Linked DNA regions of Homo sapiens: all the other regions are linked to region 2. Evidence: fine-mapped expression QTL. A gene starts in region 2. Each other region holds a variant in brackets. All regions are shown on one strand. Distances are from middle to middle.

Region 1 (2,755 bases), 240 kb before region 2:
TGCTGGGTGTGCAGGAGCTCAGGCACCATGGTGGGCCTCTATGTGCCCCAGGATGCTGTCTCCAGGTGGACAAAAGTGAGTCTAAGGGGAGTGGGACATCAAAGCAAGCACTTCCTCATCCTATTGCAGGCCCTGTGCCAGCGTGGCAGGTCTCCGTATGAAGGCTGGGGGCCTGGGGCAGGCTATGGGGAAGAAGAGAGAGAAGTGAGAGGCAGGGACAGACTGAGCTGGAGCGAGAACGAGGAGGGACTGCATACAGATGTGGTCTAGAGATAGCCTTTGCCCCCATCCCAGAAACCAAAGCCTACAATGCTCTACCCTCAGTCTACAAGGCTCTGTCCAGCCCAGCACCAGGTGCTCCTCTCAGCAGCCCTGAGCAAAGGGCAGGAGGCAGGTTGTAAGCCTAGGGACTGCACCAGGCTGACTTTTCACACACTAGTCTCATTGCATCTTCATATCATCACCCAAAGGTAAGTATTTCCATTTTACAGGTAAGGAGAGTGAGGCCCAGAGATCTAAGTGGGCTGCCCAAGGCCATCCAGTAAGGGACAGGGCTGGGGTTGATCTGACTCTGAACTCCATGCCCTTTCACAGGACTGTACCTCTGACACAGGGCACCAGCAGGCACCCAGGCCTCATCCCTGGGCGGATAGTGCTACACCTGTGGGGGCAAGGCAGCGGCCCTGCAGGGGTAGGTGCCTGGTTGCCACCCTCCCCATCTGTGGCTGCTTCCTCCCCCTCCACAGCCAGCAGGAGCAGTTTCATGGAGCTGGGAGTCCCGTGGGCTCCCCACTTCCAGGCAGCTCCTCAACTCTTCAATCTGGATCTATCTGGGGGTGGGTCAGAAAAGGCTGCCTCTTGGACCAGGCGCAGTGGCTCACAGCTGTAATCCCAGCACTTTGGGAGGCCAAGGTGGGCCGATCACTTGAGGTCAGGAGTTTGAGACCAGCCTGGCCAACATGGTAAAACCCCATCTCTACTAAAAATATACCAAAAAAAAAAAAAAAGAAATTAGCTGAGTGTGGTGGCGCATGCTTCTGCAGTGGCAGCTACTCAGGAGGCTGAGGCACGAGGATCGCTTGAACCCAGGAGGCAGAGGCTGCAGCGAGCCAAGATAGCACCACTGCACTCCAGCCTGGACAACAGAGTGAGACTCCAT[C/CA]AAAAAAAAAAAAAAAGGAAGGAAGGAATGAAAGGGAAGGAAGGAAAGGGAGGGAGGGAGGGAGGGAGGGATGGAGGGAAGGAAGGAAGGAAGGCAGGCAGGCAGGCAGGCAGGCAGGCAGGAAGGAAGGAAGGAAGGGAAGGAAGAAAGGGTTTCCTAGAATGCACCAGGCCAAGACTAAGACCCAGACCCCTCCCCAGCTATCCCAATCTCCCTGTAGTTGCTGGGGATCCAGAGCCTGTCCTGCTCTCCCCCAGCCCAGGGTGCCCTTCCTGCCTTCTCAGTGGCCGGGGTGCCCCTTTCCCTGTCTTTTTCCTGGCGTGCCCTCTGGCAAGGGAGTGGGTCCTGAGCTGTGTGCAGGGTGCATGCGTGACACAGAGTGGGGTGGAACAGAATCCCAGGAAGGCTGAGCCCAGGCCCTGCCCTTCATCCCCTGGCCCTTTCCCAGAGGAGGCACAACAAACTCAAAGAGAACGTATGGGCTCCAGACCAAAGGTCCTTGGTTCATTGCATGCAGCTCCCACGGCTGCAGCGGCTTTTATGAGAAAGCAGCAAATCATAAGAAAACTATCTCCTTGGGAGGACTTAATTGGGACAGAAACTGCAGATGGATGCCAGATGTGCAACGGCATCCAAACCCGAGTCCCAAATCCCCACAAAGATCCTCAGTCGACTCTCCCGATCCTTTGACCAGGTAATAAGAGTCCTAATAGCAGTAGCAATGGCTCCATTTCTAAAGCACACACGGTATGCTATGCACTGCTTTTATTTCTAGTTCCTTTCATTACCTAGAGAGGCATTGCTCTGCACATTTTACAGATAAGGAAACTGAGGTTACTGAGGTTAGGTAACTCAACCAAGGTCACATATTTAGAAAGTGGTGGAACTTTTCAAAATACTAAGTTGGGGAAATGCTCATCATTTGTAGAAAAATTTTCAATAAGGCATAAGAACACAGGTTTCCAGTTAACCCTCAGTTACCCAGAAAAGTAAATTCCCCAGAACGTCCTGCACATCGTGTATGCCTGTGTATGTGCATGCACTTGAATATTCTGATTAGCAGAGCTCGTGATAAACAGGCCAGACTACAGGGGAAAAAAATGTGCAGAAACCAGCAACCATATTCTCCGAATTCATCGCATGCTTGGAGATCCCCAGGTAAAAAGTTAGCAAAACATACCTTGTTCAAAACAACTGGCCAAGGACGGGATGTGAAGCAGCCACTGCTGCTAGGGGCACAGCATCCATTGGAGTTCCCTCCCCACCCCTAACTGCCCGAGGGCAGCAGATCCAGGGTTGCCCGGCCACCTCCCTCTCCTGACTGCAGTGTGGGAAGAAACGCAGGACGCTGGCAGGCACCAGACCGTGCCCCGCCCCTGATCCACAGTGTGGCTTTGAGCACACCACTTTCCCTCTCTGGGCCTTGGTTTTCCCATCTGTAAAATCAGGGCACAGTGAACTGTAAAGGGCTCGGAGGGAAATTTCATGGACTGGTTGATGATCCCAGGCTGCCGCCCTTTAGGAGAGGTCCTCCCTCCAGAGGGCTCTTGGACCTTGGGGATCCCAGGTGGGAGCCTTCATGGGAAGCGGAAGTGA
Region 2 (2,755 bases):
GTGCACCTGTGCAATTATTGTAAGGATGTTTATCTGTCTGTCTTCTTCCCCCTCACAGGGCGGGCAGCTGTGGTCTTCCTTATACACCCTACTGACACAGGGCTAGGGCCATTCAGGAAGCAGTCATTTCAGGGATAGGCCCACTGCCGCGCCTGCCTGCTCATGTCCACAAGCAGCTGCCCAGCTGATCAATCACCACAATTTGGGGTTAGGAGTTTGGTCCTGGAAGGCAGGTAGCAACAACTACTACCTAGCCAAAGAATATTCTAAAGAGCTGTCCTGTCATGTTCAATGTCTAGGTCCACAATCCCGCAAGCTTAGCGAAGTAATGCTCTGTCATTCTTACCCCCATTTACAGATGGAGAAATGGGCTGGGAGATGACAGTATGGAGGCACCAGGATTTTTGTCTCGGCTCAATTTCTGCATCTCTAAATGGAAATAATTCTACTAACTCTGAGGGTTGTTGGGGGGATTTAATGAATATATGTGTTTACTTGTTTATCTCCTGTTTTCTGTTCTAGACTGTAAACCCCAATGGGCAGCGACTTTGGCTTGTTCACTGCTCTATTGTCAGAGCCTAGAACAAGTGCCTGGTACAAAGTAGGTGTTCAATAAATATCTATGCCTAAATGGAAGAGACAGGAGAGAAGTCTAGGCCAGAGCCTGCCCCTTCTATAACCTTAGTTCCCCAGATTTGCCTTCCACATCAGGCAGCCACTGGTTGATGGAAGCATCGTCGGGCTGGGGCTGGGGCTGGGGTAACCTACTTCTGGCCTTAGGACAAGGTCGGCAAAAATCTCAGCAGTGAGGAGGCCAGAAAAGTCTCCAAGGGGCAGGCTGCAATGCCAGCCTAAGCCCTCAGGTTTCCTTTTTCTTTTTCTACATCAGGAAAAGCACTTTTCTCGCCCTGCCTGCAGAGCGGGCCACCCCTAGCTGCAGGTGAGGGACGGGAGAGGAGCCTCCCACGTGCGGCCGTGCGAGGCCGAGGAACAGGAACGGCGTAGCTAGGAGACCAGGTCCCGGAGAAGGAGAGCTGGCCCCACTGGCAGAGAAAGGCGGGGAAGGGCGCGGAGGCGGAGCACTGGGCGGGTACCCGCTGGCGGCTCTCGCGCGGCGGCGCTGCTCCACCTTAAGCGACTGTACCCCCTTAAGGGCGGGCGCTCAAGCAGCGAGCCCCGGGGGCGGGGCCTCCAATGCAAATGAGGGGCGTGGGCAGGCGGGGCGGGGCGGGCGGGGCGCTGACCTGACGTCAGGCTCGCGGCCCGGGCAGTTGGCTCGGCGGCAGCGGAGCGGCCGGAGCTGCGGTGCGGACCGGGGCCGCGCGGCGTGGCGCGGGGAGCGGCGGCGGCGGCAGAGCCAGAGCAACATGGCGCCGGTGGGCGGGGGCGGGCGCCCGGTCGGCGGACCGGCCCGCGGGCGCCTCCTCCTGGCGGCGCCGGTGCTGCTGGTGCTGCTGTGGGCGCTGGGGGCCCGGGGCCAGGGCAGCCCCCAGCAGGGCACGATCGTGGGCATGAGGCTGGCGAGCTGCAACAAGTCGTGTGGGACGAACCCGGATGGCATCATCTTCGTGTCCGAGGGCAGCACCGTGAACCTGAGGCTGTACGGCTACAGCCTGGGCAACATCTCCAGCAACCTGATCTCCTTCACCGAGGTGGACGATGCCGAGACCCTCCACAAGTCCACCAGCTGCCTCGAGCTCACCAAGGACCTGGTCGTCCAGCAGCTGGTCAACGTGAGCCGCGGGAACACGTCCGGCGTGCTGGTGGTGCTCACCAAGTTCCTCCGGAGGAGCGAGAGCATGAAGCTGTATGCACTGTGCACCCGGGCCCAGCCCGACGGGCCCTGGCTGAAGTGGACGGACAAGGACTCACTGCTCTTCATGGTGGAGGAGCCTGGGAGGTTCCTGCCTCTCTGGCTGCACATTCTCCTAATTACGGTGCTGCTGGTGCTGTCGGGCATATTTTCTGGCCTCAACCTCGGGCTTATGGCCCTGGACCCCATGGAGCTGCGCATCGTGCAGAACTGTGGCACCGAGAAGGAGAGGCGCTATGCCCGCAAGATTGAGCCCATCCGGCGCAAGGGCAACTACCTTCTCTGCTCGTTGCTCCTAGGGAACGTGCTGGTCAACACCTCCCTCACAATCCTTCTAGACAACCTCATCGGGTCCGGCCTCATGGCGGTGGCCTCCTCCACCATTGGCATTGTCATCTTTGGGGAGATCCTACCTCAGGCCCTGTGCTCCCGACATGGGCTGGCTGTGGGTGCCAACACCATCCTTCTCACCAAATTCTTTATGCTACTCACCTTCCCCCTCAGTTTTCCCATTAGCAAGCTCCTGGACTTTTTTCTGGGCCAGGAGATTCGCACTGTTTACAACCGGGAGAAGCTGATGGAGATGTTGAAGGTGACGGAGCCCTATAATGACCTCGTGAAAGAGGAGCTCAATATGATCCAGGGTGCCCTGGAACTACGGACCAAAACTGTAGAGGATATCATGACCCAGCTCCAGGACTGCTTCATGATCCGCAGCGATGCCATCCTGGACTTCAACACCATGTCGGAGATAATGGAAAGCGGCTATACTCGCATCCCGGTGTTCGAAGACGAGCAGTCCAATATTGTAGATATTCTCTACGTCAAAGACTTGGCCTTTGTGGACCCCGATGACTGCACCCCCCTCAAGACTATCACTCGCTTCTATAACCACCCGGTGCACTTTGTCTTCCATGACACCAAGTTGGATGCCATGCTGGA
Region 3 (2,755 bases), 75 kb before region 2:
CATGCCTATGTGGAGGTCAGGGCTCTGCACTGCTTTCCCAGTCTTACCCCATCCCGGCTTCTTGCCACCTGTTTCTTCTGTTGGGAAGCAGGAAGGATGTGGGGGGTTCCTAGCCTCGGAGTTGTGGACAACCTTGAACTGATATCACCAGGTTATCCCTCAAAGTTCCCAAGGTCGTGGCTGAAAACATCTTGGGCCAATCAGCCCTGTGGCCTGTCCAGCTGGGCTCCATGCTGAGGCGGGCTCTCTCACCATTTCTCTCCTGCTGGGCAGAAAGCCAACCTGGACACCCTGAAATCCACGCGGAATCCGAAGGATCCAGCTCTCCTCTACCAGTGGGAGAAACTGCTGAGGGAGCTGGCAGAGGACTGCAAGTAGGAGTAGGGGCACTCCGGGATACAGCTGGCCTGGAGCTGAGCCAGATCTGGGCCTGGGGACTCAGCGCAGTGCCCTGAACACCTCCCCCCGCCCTCCTCGGGGAGGAGCACTGCTCAGACCTCTCCCCAGCGGGAAACCCCAAGAGTCGCTTCTCCCTTCCCATTCAGGCCCCCTGACCGCCCCATCAGAATGGTCCCTGCTACCCCACACCCACACCCGAGGCTCCTCTTAAGCCAGCCTGTCCTCTTCCTCCAGACAAGCCCACATAGCCCCACCTCCCTGCAGGCCCTGGGAGGAAGGGAGAGGACTGGATGAGAACCCAGGGCTGGACACACAGCGAGCAGGCTTCCTATGGAGCAGTGGGAAGGGCTCCTGGGCCAGGCTAGCAGCAGATGGGGGCAGGATCTTGAGGCCAGGAGGGGCACGCTGGCCTAAGGCAGGGCAGGAATGGTGACACTGGGAGGCAGTAGAGAGGTCCAGCCCCTGCTACCCTGTCCTGGCCACAGGCGCCCTCTGCCCTGCATGACCTATCAGCCCAAAGCCACCAGCCTGGACAGGAAGAGGTGGCAGCTCCGCAGCCTCCTCCTGCAGGAACTGGCCCAAAAGGCCAAGCAAGCCAAGCCCAAGGACATGGTGGCCACAGCGGAGGACTGGCTGTACCGCCTCAAC[A/G]CCGTGCTCCCTGAGGTGGGTGCTGCACACACTGGCCTGCAGCAGGGCTGGGAGCCAGCCGCGCAGGGCCTGACATTCTCCCACCTCGGCAGCCCCAGATGGGCCTCCCTGACGTGATGATTTGGCTGGTGGCCAAGGAGCAGCGAGTGGCCTATGCACAGGTGCCTGCCCACTCCGTCCTCTTCTCCCCGGCAGGGGCTCTGCACTCCGGCAGGCTCTGTGGGAAGATACAGACACTCTTCCTACAGGTGGGAATCAGGGACTCCTCAGGGGAGGACAGGGCTGAGAAATGCCCCCAGGGGAGCCCCCTGAACTCGCAGGGCAGCCCCTATGGGGCCTGTTTTCCTGGTCCCTTAACCACATGGAATGGGGTTGAAACAGTCCCCAGAGGAAGAGAGGGGTCTGTGGCTGTCAGCATGTTGGGTGATGCCAAGTCCATGTACCTCCTAAATGTTCCCCAAATCCACCTCCTCGCTGGGCACGGTGGCTCACAGGTAATCCCAGCACTTTGGGAGGCTGAGGCGGGTGGATCACCTGAGGTCAGGAGTTTGAGACCCAGCCTGACCAACTTGGTGAAACCCCGTCTCCACTAAAAATACAAAAAAATTAGCTGGGCATGGTGGCGCATGCTTGTAATCCTAGCTACATGGGAGGCTGAGGCAGGAGAATCGCTTGAACCTGGGAGACGGAGGTTGCAGTGAGCTGAGATCGTGACACTGTTCCAGCCTGGGTGACAGAGCGAGACTCCGTCTCAAAAAAAAAAAAAAAAAAAAAAAACAGAAAACAAATCCACCTCCTCTATCATCCTCATGGCCACCATTTGGTCCAGCCCCTTGTCATCTCTTCCCTGGACCGTGACGGGGTGATCTCCAAAATATTTAATGTCTATAAGGTTTGGTACCAGCCCATCATATCAGATGCAAGCTATAAATAAGACTAAACACCCTGACCACCACCCCCACCCCTGGCTGTGACAGTGGCCTCCCTGCTTCTAATCCTCCCTGGGGGGACGTGGGGGCCACTCCCTCCCCCTTCAGAGACTCCCTGGCTCCCCACTGCCTCCTGGAGAAGGTGCCGCCTTGCCACCTGGCCCCTGGCCCCTGTTCCTGCATCCATTCTCTCTGGCCCATACTCTCAACAGTAAGGACACTCTGGGCTTTCCTGGCCCCAACTGTACCTGCCCTTTGCCCTCTCCACCAACACGCAAGGCTCCTTCCATGACCACCAGAGTCCTTCGCATCCCGCAAGAGCCCCTGAGACATGAATCCTGGCTCTGTGTGGCCCTAGGCCAACTCCTGGCCATGCCCAGCCCTCAGCATGCTGCTCTGTAGAATGGGCCTGGCAATCACCATGCCCTCTCATGGTGGGGTGTGAGGATCCAGGACTATGATGCACACTGGGCAACTGGCACAGTGCCAGCCCATAACAAGCACACAAGGAATGTCCATCAGTCCCATTGTCAACATCCCTGCTACTCCCTCTGTGAGGCACTCCCACCCTCTCTGCTTCATGGCTCCCAGGGTGGAGCCACCCCACTCTGGAGGGCAGAACAGAACTCCATGCCATTCACTTACAGCTCCAGCACTCAGCTCAGTGAGGGCCCCGCTCCCAGGGCTCAGGGGGGAAGGGGCAGGTACAGCCCACTTGGGGGGTGGCCGGGGTGGCGTTCAGGGTGTTTAGTGCCCCTGTGGGACCGATCGGCCTCTGG

What was found. PIP is the estimated chance that this variant, and not a neighbour inherited with it, causes the effect.
Region 1: its variant is fine-mapped to the expression of CNNM4 in whole blood (INTERVAL, PIP 0.93).
Region 3: its variant is fine-mapped to the expression of CNNM4 in monocytes (TOPMed, PIP 0.98).

The regions. Positions count from the first base shown.
Region 1 is chr2:96,522,375-96,525,129 of GRCh38, forward strand. No RefSeq gene overlaps it. Among named protein-coding and RNA genes, the nearest start is that of ARID5A, 13 kb to the right of the region's middle. RefSeq lists an enhancer at 1,974-2,493. The variant C/CA (reference allele first, on the strand shown) is at 1,160.
Region 2 is chr2:96,759,633-96,762,387 of GRCh38, forward strand. CNNM4 (cyclin and CBS domain divalent metal cation transport mediator 4) reads left to right here and starts at 1,270. Exons shown (of 7, transcript NM_020184.4): 1 at 1,270-2,755. The coding sequence starts at 1,368. RefSeq lists enhancers at 708-757, 1,317-1,906, 1,778-2,027, 1,907-2,495 and silencers at 1,088-1,507, 1,631-1,814.
Region 3 is chr2:96,685,056-96,687,810 of GRCh38, forward strand. It overlaps FER1L5 (fer-1 like family member 5), which reads left to right. Exons shown (of 53, transcript NM_001293083.2): 21 at 274-374; 22 at 885-1,062; 23 at 1,140-1,295. Among named protein-coding and RNA genes, the nearest start is that of FER1L5, 44 kb to the left of the region's middle. RefSeq lists an enhancer at 863-1,588. The variant A/G (reference allele first, on the strand shown) is at 1,048.